Linked DNA regions of Homo sapiens. The protein of the gene in region 3 interacts with the protein of the main gene of each other region in a biochemical or structural test. Each region holds a gene or a part of one and is shown on either strand. Other genes may lie near its edges.

Evidence for each region.
Region 1: the proteins of SCTR (region 3) and ADCYAP1 interact in a test that uses a peptide from one of them, tested with the Homo sapiens proteins (one study listed by BioGRID).
Region 2: the proteins of SCTR (region 3) and SNTA1 interact in a test that uses a peptide from one of them, tested with the Homo sapiens proteins (one study listed by BioGRID).

Annotation. Positions count from the first base shown.
Region 1 is NC_000018.10:907,806-910,363, forward strand, and holds part of ADCYAP1 (pituitary adenylate cyclase-activating polypeptide preproprotein), read left to right. Parts: intron 1-459; coding exon 460-558; intron 559-739; coding exon of another isoform or gene 740-785; exon of another isoform or gene 786-1,627; intron 1,628-1,640; coding exon 1,641-1,830; 3' UTR 1,831-2,558. UniProt on the Homo sapiens protein: PACAP is a neuropeptide involved in diverse array of physiological processes through activating the PACAP subfamily of class B1 G protein-coupled receptors: VIP receptor 1 (VIPR1), VIP receptor 2 (VIPR2), and PACAP type I receptor (ADCYAP1R1).
Region 2 is NC_000020.11:33,433,621-33,437,277, forward strand, and holds part of SNTA1 (alpha-1-syntrophin), read right to left. Parts: intron 1-3,657. UniProt on the Homo sapiens protein: Adapter protein that binds to and probably organizes the subcellular localization of a variety of membrane proteins. May link various receptors to the actin cytoskeleton and the extracellular matrix via the dystrophin glycoprotein complex.
Region 3 is NC_000002.12:119,444,356-119,448,012, forward strand, and holds part of SCTR (secretin receptor precursor), read right to left. Parts: intron 2,531-3,657; coding exon 2,404-2,530; intron 1-2,403.

The DNA.
Region 1 (2,558 bases), on a different chromosome or scaffold from region 3:
CCTCGCGCACACCCGCGGCTGGGAGCTCGGGACTGCGGTGACGGGAGGGGCAGTGTGGTGACCCACCCAGGATTTTTTTTTTTTTCCCGTGAAAGTCCTCAAGCCTGTCCTCTCCCTGGCCCGATCCTATTGCAGCGACAGAAAATCAGCAGCGGGCGGGTCTGTGTGGACCTGAGGGCCGCGTGGGGACCGAGGGGGGCTGTGGCCCAAAGAGTGGCAGTGAGTGGCGTCAAGGAACCCACACTCCGCATCTGCCACTCCTAGAGCCGGGACTAGCTCCCGATCCTAGCAGTTGCTCTCGAGATCATCCCGGGAGTTATTGGCGAGTTCTGGGCCTCTGGAGGTTTCCCTGTCAGCCTCCCCGGCCGCCGAGGGGGCGCGCGCCCAACAAGGGGGTCTCTAGCGGCCACCTGGGGACAGAAACAGTGACCCTGGGCGCGCACTTTGCCTCCCCGTTAGAGATGTCGCCCACGGGATCCTTAACGAGGCCTACCGCAAAGTGCTGGACCAGCTGTCCGCCGGGAAGCACCTGCAGTCGCTCGTGGCCCGGGGCGTGGGGTAAGAGTTTGTGGAAGGATTAACCTGCGCGCGCCGGGGTGGGTGCCTGTGCGGGGCGCGCGGGGCGGGCGGCGGTGGGTGCCCGTGGGGGCCAGGGTGAGTCTGCGCCCCTGGGTCTGGGGTGGGCATCCGCCACGGGTCGCAGTTGGAGATTTTGAAGTGGCACTTTAAATTTGCCCAGAGAGCTCTGGAAGAGGCAAAAAGGGAACGCGAGCCAGGGAGTTTGATCCGTTTTGAATGAAAAGAAAGAGAAACCAAACCAAACCTCTCAGTCATCCAAAACCTTCAGGCTTCCAGGGAGGTTTTGCTATAATTTTCTCTAAGCATGACTGTTTCTGGGGGAGGGGAAAGGGGTGGTTGTATTTACTGAAAATTCAAATCGAAATAATAAATGGCCAAATGTGGACACTTATGGACCCAAACAGTTTTGCTCACGCCAGAGAAACTGAGAGCACAGGGCTTGTGTGAAGCCTATCTCGGCAGAAGGCAACATTCTAATAAAGCCCGTGGGAAAACAGATTACATTTTCGCCATGAATAAGTCATGCAGTGAAAAATATTGCCTACAGCCTGTCGACTTATATTATTATCACGTTTTTCAACTCGGCGTGAGGAGGGAGAGGAGTGTTCATATTTGACTAGGAATTGCAGGATCGATGCAAACTCCAGGGCAGCAGCCAGACTGGCATATGTAGGGCTCTCCGGTTACTTTCTCTGTATGTCGCGGGTGAGAGGAACAGCGAGGACAATTTAGCGCAAACACACGAAGGGTCGGATCTCAAGGGGGCAGCGCTGGGAGAAAGGTTAGGCTTGAAGCGCGCGTCGCCTGCCCGGATCTTATCCCGGGCCCCCTCCGCAGGGTTTGGTGCCAGGAGATCCTGCGTGGGGAGGGGGGCATCGAGGGGCTGCCGTCTCGGCCCTCCCCACGGCTGCTTCCAGGCAGAGGCGGGCGACGCGGTGGGCAGTGCGAGCCCCGGGCCCTCCCCGAAGGCTCCCGCGTGGGGTGGGGCCCGCCTGCTCCCCGCGGCGATTGAACCTGTGTCTCCCGCCCCGCCACCCTCTTCCCGACCCCTTTGCTTGCAGTGGGAGCCTCGGCGGCGGCGCGGGGGACGACGCGGAGCCGCTCTCCAAGCGCCACTCGGACGGGATCTTCACGGACAGCTACAGCCGCTACCGGAAACAAATGGCTGTCAAGAAATACTTGGCGGCCGTCCTAGGGAAGAGGTATAAACAAAGGGTTAAAAACAAAGGACGCCGAATAGCTTATTTGTAGCGATGGGTTACCAGCTACCCTGTGTATACAGCCCTGACGCAATGAAAAGTCGTTTTCCAAACTGACTCAACAGTCATCGCTCGTGTGTTCTATCCAAACATGTATTTATGTAATGAAGTAAAGCCATTAAATGAATATTTTGATAATAATATTGTTTTTCTTTCTACAAAGCACTAGAGAATGCACAGATATACTTTGTGGACCAATTATTGATATATATTATAAATATATATAAAGAATATATATATATATATATATATATATATATATAAAGTATAGAGAGAAGTTCATACAAAGCGTGCACAAGGATTGAAAATTCGCCCGAGCTGTTTATGTTTTTATAAAAATAAATAGAAAAGTAGACAATCATTGTTTTGAATATTACTCCTATTTTTGTAAACTGGAATTAAAAGGATAGTATTTTTATCCATGACAGGCCTGAAGATATTACTACTTACCATTTGCTACTGTACATAAACAATGATGCCCTGCTCCAGGGAGATTTTGAGGTAAAGATATGGAGAATTGCTGAAGGGCATTCTTTCCCAGTGAGTCTCTGGGGCAGGCTGCTTCAATCCCAGCCTAACTCAACTGGGCTCTGTCCCCCTGGTTGGGTGGCAATTCCAATATTTCTGCTTTCTTTGATTCTCCTTTTATGTGTAGTTGTCTCTCTTCAGACTCTCAGCCCAGAAGAAAATTCTCCTGATAAAACAACAGCTCGATCCAAA
Region 2 (3,657 bases), on a different chromosome or scaffold from region 3:
ACTGGAATGGGAGGAGGGAAGGGTGTTTTCCTTGAGGCTGTCCCTCCCTCTTCCCCCAGGCCTGGCCTTCAAGGGCCCAGGCTGGCCCTGGCTTGAGGTCTGCACACACAACGGGCCTCTCGAAGCAGCGGACAGACACTTGTTGGCTGCCAACTTGGGCCCAGACTGTGGTCACAAACACACCCCTCTGGCTGAGAACAGGATCAGGACATTTCTGCAAACCCCTGACCTAGTAGAAGAAATGTTCTAGGAGGCAGGTTGGGGTTGCTGAGGCTCAGCTGAGCCCCCAACTTAGGCCAGGGAAGTAAGGCTCTAGCTGACACCTGGAGTTTGCTGGTAATGCTTGTTCTCCCAGGACATCCTCAGGGGATTCACTATCCACTGAGCTGGAAAAATATCCAGTTGCCTTGCCAAGTTCACATCCAAAGGACAGGCCATCCTTCCATGGCCCCTTGGAGGCGTCCTCAGTAATGGGATGTGAGTGGGGAAATGTTGAACAATGTGGTCAGTGATTCAACTCCGGGGAAACCTAGGCCCAGAGAGGGTCCCAGGAACCCTGGCTGCTCCAGACTGGTGCAACTGCCAGGCCCAGACCTTCTCCACTCCCCAAAGTCTCAAGGACCAGCCACAGCCCAGCATCCTCCTATCCTTCAGACCTCTCTGATCACTCTTGCCATTCAGAGATTCCTGACTCCAGTGCCTTCCACCACTCCTCCTCCCCTCTTTGTGCTATCTTGAGTGGAATGACCTCCTTCCATGAGATCTTGGGCCAGGAGAATAGGTCGAAAAAGACTTCAACTAAGGAAAAGTGGGGAAAAACATGAAGGCCACATTCTTCTTTCTCTTACCCAGGCCATAGGCAGGGTTCACCAAGGAATGATCTCGTCCTGTGAAACATCTCAGAGAATATAAGAGCAGGGGCCCCTCAGTCCTGGGATGATACACATGTTACTTCTCTACTGCATCTGTAGTAGACATTGCTAATCAATTCCAGCTCCTTTCTGCTGAGCCCAGACAAAGCCTCCCAATCCTTCCAAATATGGAACTCACAGAACCACCAGTGGAGCTGACGCTTACACTCTTTTTTTTTTTTTTCCTACAGAGATGAAATCTCACTGTGTTGCCCAAGCTGGTCTCGAACTCCTGGGCTCAAGTGATCTGCCCACCTAAGCCTCCCAAAGTGTTGGGATTACAGGCGTAAGCCACCACGCCTGCCTGGAGCTGCCACTCTAAATAAAAGCTATTGATCACCTCTGATCTAGCCTAACTTCAATAGGAAAACTGAGTCCCCTAGAAGGCAAGGGTCTTACCCAAGGCCAAACAGAGATTTATTGCAGAGCAGACAGGATTTCAGGCACCAGCTTTTTTTTTTTTTTTTTTTTTTTTTTTGAGATGGATTCTTGCTCTTGTCGCCCAGGCTGGAGTGCAGCGGCACAATCACGGCTCACTGCAACCTCCGCCTCCCGTGTTCAAGATTTTCCTACCTCAGCCTCCTGAGTAGCTGGGATTACAGGCACGCGCCACCATGGCTCAGCTAATTTTTGTATTTTTAGTAGAGACGGGGTTTCGCCATGTTGGCCAGGCTGGTCTCAAACTCCTGGCCTCAGGTGATCCACCCGCCTCAGCCTCCCAAAGTGCTGGGATTACAGGCGTGAGTCACAGCACCTAGCCACCGGCTTTTAAAGAGTTTCTGTAGGCCAGGCATGGTGGCTCACGTCTGTAATCCCAGCACTTTGGGAGGCCCAGGCAGGCAGATCACTGAGGCCGGGAGTTCGAGACCAGCCTGGCCAACATGGCAAAACCCTGTCTCTACTAAAAATACAAAAATTAACCAGGCCGTGGTGGTGCACACCTGTAATTCCAGCTACAGAACTGAGGCAGAGAATCGCTTGAACCTGGGAGAAGGAGGTTGCAGTAAGCTGAGATCGCACTACTGCACTCCAGCCTGGGCAACAGAGTGAGACCCTGCCTCAAGAAAAAAACACAGTTTGTGTAGAGGAGATAGTGTTTATGTTTTGTCTACCCTACCACATGGTGAGCTCCTTCAGGAGAGGCCCTGGGTGTAGTTTAGCTTCTGACCTTAATATACACAGCAGGCACACAGTAGATGTCCATGAATGTCTCTTGGCTTAGTGAGGAGGAATGCATGACATGAGTTAGAGGGAAGGCTTGAGTATTCACTCCTAAAGTCAGAAGATGCTTCAAGGTCACACATTTACAGATACTACCTTCTCAAAACGACATACATGGGAACCCAGATAGATACATTTTTAATCTAAAGATGAGGAGGTGGGCCGGGCGCGGTGGCTCACGCGTGTAATCCCAGCACTTTGGGAGGCCGGGGCGGGCAGATCACAAGGTCAGGAGATCGAGACCATCCTGGCTAACACGGTGAAACCACATCTCTACTAATAATACAAAAAATTAGCCAGGCGTGGTGGCGGGCACCTGTAGTCCCAGCTACTTGGGAGGCTGAGCAGGAGAATGGCGTGAACCCGGGAGGCGGAGCTTGCAGTGAGCCGAGATCCCGCCACTGCACTCCAACCTGGGTGACAGAGCAAGACTCTGTCTCAAAAATATAAATAAATAAAAATAAAAAATAAAGATGAGGAGGTGAGGGGACCTCCGTGTGAATGTGGATTTGAATTGTGTCTATAGCAGAAATTTTACCATAGACTAAACTTTCAAACAACAGAAGCTAAAAGAGCTTTCAAGTCAACTAAAATATGACATTTCGATGAATGTCAGTGGTTTCAAACCGCATTGCTGACTATAAATATCAAAGTAATGAGGCATGTGGGGAAAGTCTCTTATATCCATATCATTTATGTGGCATTCTATTATTTAACTTTGCCATTAAAATATGATTGATACACTTAAGCTTCTAAGGATCAACACTCTAGAGTCAGCTTTTTTTAAGTATCAAAAAAATGCATCTAGACTGGGCACTGTGGCCTGCAATCCCAGCACTTTGGGAGACTTAGGTGGGAGGATCCCTTAAGCCCAGGAGTTGGAGACCAGCCCAGGCAACATGGTGAAACCCTGTCTCTACAAAAAATTGGCTAGGTGTGGTGGCTCACGCCTGTAATCCCAGCACTTTGGGAGGCCGAGGCAGGCAGATCACGAGGTCAGGAGTTCGAGACCAGCCTGGCCAATATGGTGAAACCCTGTCTCTACTAAAAATACAAAAAAAAAATTAGCCAGGCGTGGTAGTGCGCACCTGTAGTCCCAGCTACTCGGAAGGCTAAGGCAGAAGAATCGCTTGAACCTGGAAGGCGGAGGATGCAGTGAGCCAAGATCGCGCCACTGCTCCAGCCTGGGCGACAGAGTAAGACTCCATCTCAAAAAAAAAAAAAAAAAAAAGCTAGGCGCAGGGGCTCACACCTGTAATCCCAGCACTTTTGGAGGCTGAGGCAGGTGGATCACAAGCTCAGGAGTTTGAGACCAGCCTGGCCAATATGGTGAAACCTCATCTCTACTAAAAATAAAAAAATTAGCCGGGCATGGTGGTGGGTGCCTGTAATCCCAGCTACTCAGGAGGCGGAGGCAGAAGAATTGCTTGAACCCGGGAGACGGAGGTTGCAGTGAGCCGAGATCATGCCACTGCACTCCAGCCTGGGCAACAGAGTGAGACTCCATCTCAGAAAAAAAAAAAAA
Region 3 (3,657 bases):
AATATATATACACATATATACGTATGAATATATATACACATATACGTATGAATATATATACCCATATACGTATGAATATACACATATATATACGTACGTATATATATACACATATATACGTACGTATATATATACACATATATACGTACGTATATATATACACATATATACGTACGAATATATATACACATATATACGTACGAATATATATACACATATATACGTACGAATATATATACACATATATACGTACGAATATATATACACATATATACGTACGAATATATATACACATATATACGTACGAATATATATACACATATATACGTACGAATATATATACACATATATACGTACGAATATATATACACATATATACGTACGAATATATATACACATATATACGTACGAATATATATACACATATATACGTACGAATATATATACACATATATTCGTACGAATATATATACACATATATTCGTACGAATATATATACACATATATTCGTACGAATATATATACACATATATTCGTACGAATATATATACATATATTCGTACGAATATACACATATATTCGTACGAATATATATACATATATTCGTACGAATATATATACATATATTCGTACGAATATATATACATATATATGTATAAAACTTTAAAAGATCCTTTTTCTTCATCAACATTCGTATGAGAACATCAGGAAAGTGCTTTTGATTTTCTCTTGGCAAGACATTTTCCTAGAGAAGTAGTCCACAGTCCCAACCATTAGCCCCAACTCTGAGGGACAGGAAGTCCCCATCCATGGCCAGGCAGACCCGGGTCCAAGCTCTCAGCATGGTCCCTTTTCTGAGCCAGGTCAAGTCCTTCCACCCGACTGGTCCTCAAATCCTCTACCTGCTAGATGGGCCATTGTGTGCCCAGCCTCCCTGGACGTTACAAGAGCAGTGGTGAGGAAAGCTAGCTCCCTGGCCCCCAGGCCGAGAGGAAAAGAATCCTGGATTAAGCCAGAGGCTGAGTTCTCTGGAGGTCTGGGGCACTGACGGGTTACTGGGTAGAGGGCCAGCTTAGGGGAGGGTGTGGTCTGAAGGTATGGGTAGGGCAAGACCTGACTCCACTCAGTGATGTGTCCCCAGTGAGGCATCCTCCCTAGAACCTGTAAGTAACAGGAAGACCCTACCCTGAACAGAGCTCTAGGGATGAGGGGAGGGTTTGAACCCCTGCTCGCAGGCCGAGGCCACCCCAGTGAAAGCTTGGCTGGACAATATCGCCCTACCGTGGAAATGTCGTTAAGGACTAAGTCCTTTAAAAAAAACTACTGGGAGAATTTTGTCTCAGGCCTAGAGCCTATAATCACTGGCTTCTCCCGGCCGTTAGTTTGATTTTGTCTTATGGATATGCGAAATTTTGAAACAATTGTTTTGTCTTTGCTTTGGCTACTGGGAAGCTCCCTATCATACTTATGACCCATCTCTCCCTCCTGTATAGAACTTTATCGTATTTGTTTCTGTGTAGCAACCCAACCAGTTGTACATTCTTTTTTTCACTGATCCTTCATCGACTTATTTTTTGTCCTTTGTATGTTTTTCCCAAAAGCGACATTGCATTATTTTTGGAAGGAAATAGCTATGAGTAAATAAACAAACGGCATTGTGAAGTTTGGGATTCACGTTCAGGCTCCCTCTGCCCAAACACGTTTACTGTTGTTGTTTTTAAGTTCACAGCATCTTGTGGAATTAGTAGGTAAGCGCTTTTCCACCTCACTTTATTTTTTAAAGTCAGTTTTTAGTTTTAATAATTTGCATATGCACATGGTTTCAGAGAATCAAAGGATTCCTGTTACAGAACCAGCAGCCTCCTGACACCCCACCCTCACTTCCTTTTCCTCACATGCGACTGCTCCTTGAAACTCTCTTAACTGCTTCTAAAAAATATGCTGGTGTCGCCACTTGAGGAGTTTTCAGTCTAGGGCATTTTCTATGGACTTCCCAGTGTGAAGATGAGGACAGTGTTCTCTTCCAAACACCCGCCCCACGCTCCCGCGAGGCTCATCTTCCCGCCCCAGTGTTTGATGACTTGGCCATCCGCGCTTACGTTATTTTGACCATGTATATGTTATTGAGAGTTGTACAATATAGTGTACTGGGGCTACTTTTCCTTTTTATTTTCCCTGAAGTCAGTCTCTCTGTCTCTCTTAGTTTTATCTCCCACCCCCATTTGACTGGTGGGGACCAGGGATCCCACTCAGGGACCTGTAGCACTGTCAGGTCCGACCCCTTCTTCCCCTGGGTCTCTGCCAGATAAGGCATCTGGCTCGCAGTCTCTATGCCCTCCACTTCTCCCTAAGGACACAGAGAACTCCTCTTTTCAGCTGGCAGCCCCAGTCCTGGAAACTTACCTGGAATGAGCCAAGGGCTAGTTCAAAAAACAGCTGGATCTCCATAGCGTCCTCTGGGGAGAAGGCGAAGACGATGTAGTGGATGCCAAAGAGGGGGATCAGCAGGAGAGTGGACCTGGCCAGGCGCCTGGGGACACAGAAAGCCTGTAGCCTCCACTCTGCCTCCCTGCGCCCTTTCTCCTCCTGTAGGCACACAGCTGTGCCACTCCCCAGCTCGGGACTGACTGCTGAGGCTGGCTAGCAGTACCCCAAACTTTTTTGTTTTCATTTTTTATTTTGAAAGTTTCTAACTCCCTCATATCCATCACTCAGATACAACAATTTTTGACTCATGGCAAAGCCCCAAACTTTCTGATCATGCACCTCCATCAGTAAAAAGAAAAAAAAACGGTACCTACACCATTAACTTTATTTATAAATTACGTGCCTATATCACTGCTGCTCTATGTCTAACATCATACAAGCAAAGCCGGCTTTCTCATTTGCTAGATAATAAATATCTGTAGGGACAAATTCTTGTATTTTCTTCCCAGATTAGGGTTGCCAAACTTAGCAAATAAAAATACAGAATCCCCAGTTAAATCTGAATTTCAGATAAACAATGGACACCATGTGGGGGTATAAATATTGAAAAACGATTTGTTGTTTATCCAAAATTCAAATGTAACTGGGCATCCTGTATTTTACCTGGCAACTTTATCCCAGGTCCCCAGGAATCTGACACCAAGTAATCTGAGGCACTGTCAGATTCTCAAAACACGAAACACCATGGAGAAGGTCTCTGGGGGACACTAATTTGTCCTGTTTTTGTTTTGTTTTTTTCTTCTTTTTGAGACAGAGTCTTGCTGTGTTGTGCAGGCAGGAGTGCAGTGGCGCAATCGCGGCTCACTGCAACCTCTGCCTCCCAGGTTCAAGTGATTCTCCTATCTCAGCCTCCCGAGTAGCTGAGATTACAGGCGCCCTCCACCACGCCTGGCTAATTTTTGTATTTTTAGCAAAGACGAGGTTTCACCATCTTGACCAGGCTGGTCTCGAACTCCTGACCTCAAGTGATCTGCCCACCTTGGCCTCCCAAAGTGCTGGGATTATTGGTGTGAGCCACCGCGCCTGGATGCTAATTTGTCTTTAATATAATTTATGGGCTGAATTATGTCCACACCCACTGCCAAATTTTTACACTGAAGTCCTAGCCCCCAGTATCTCAGAATGTGACTGCATTTGGAGAAAGGTCTTGAAAGAGGAGGCTAAGTTACA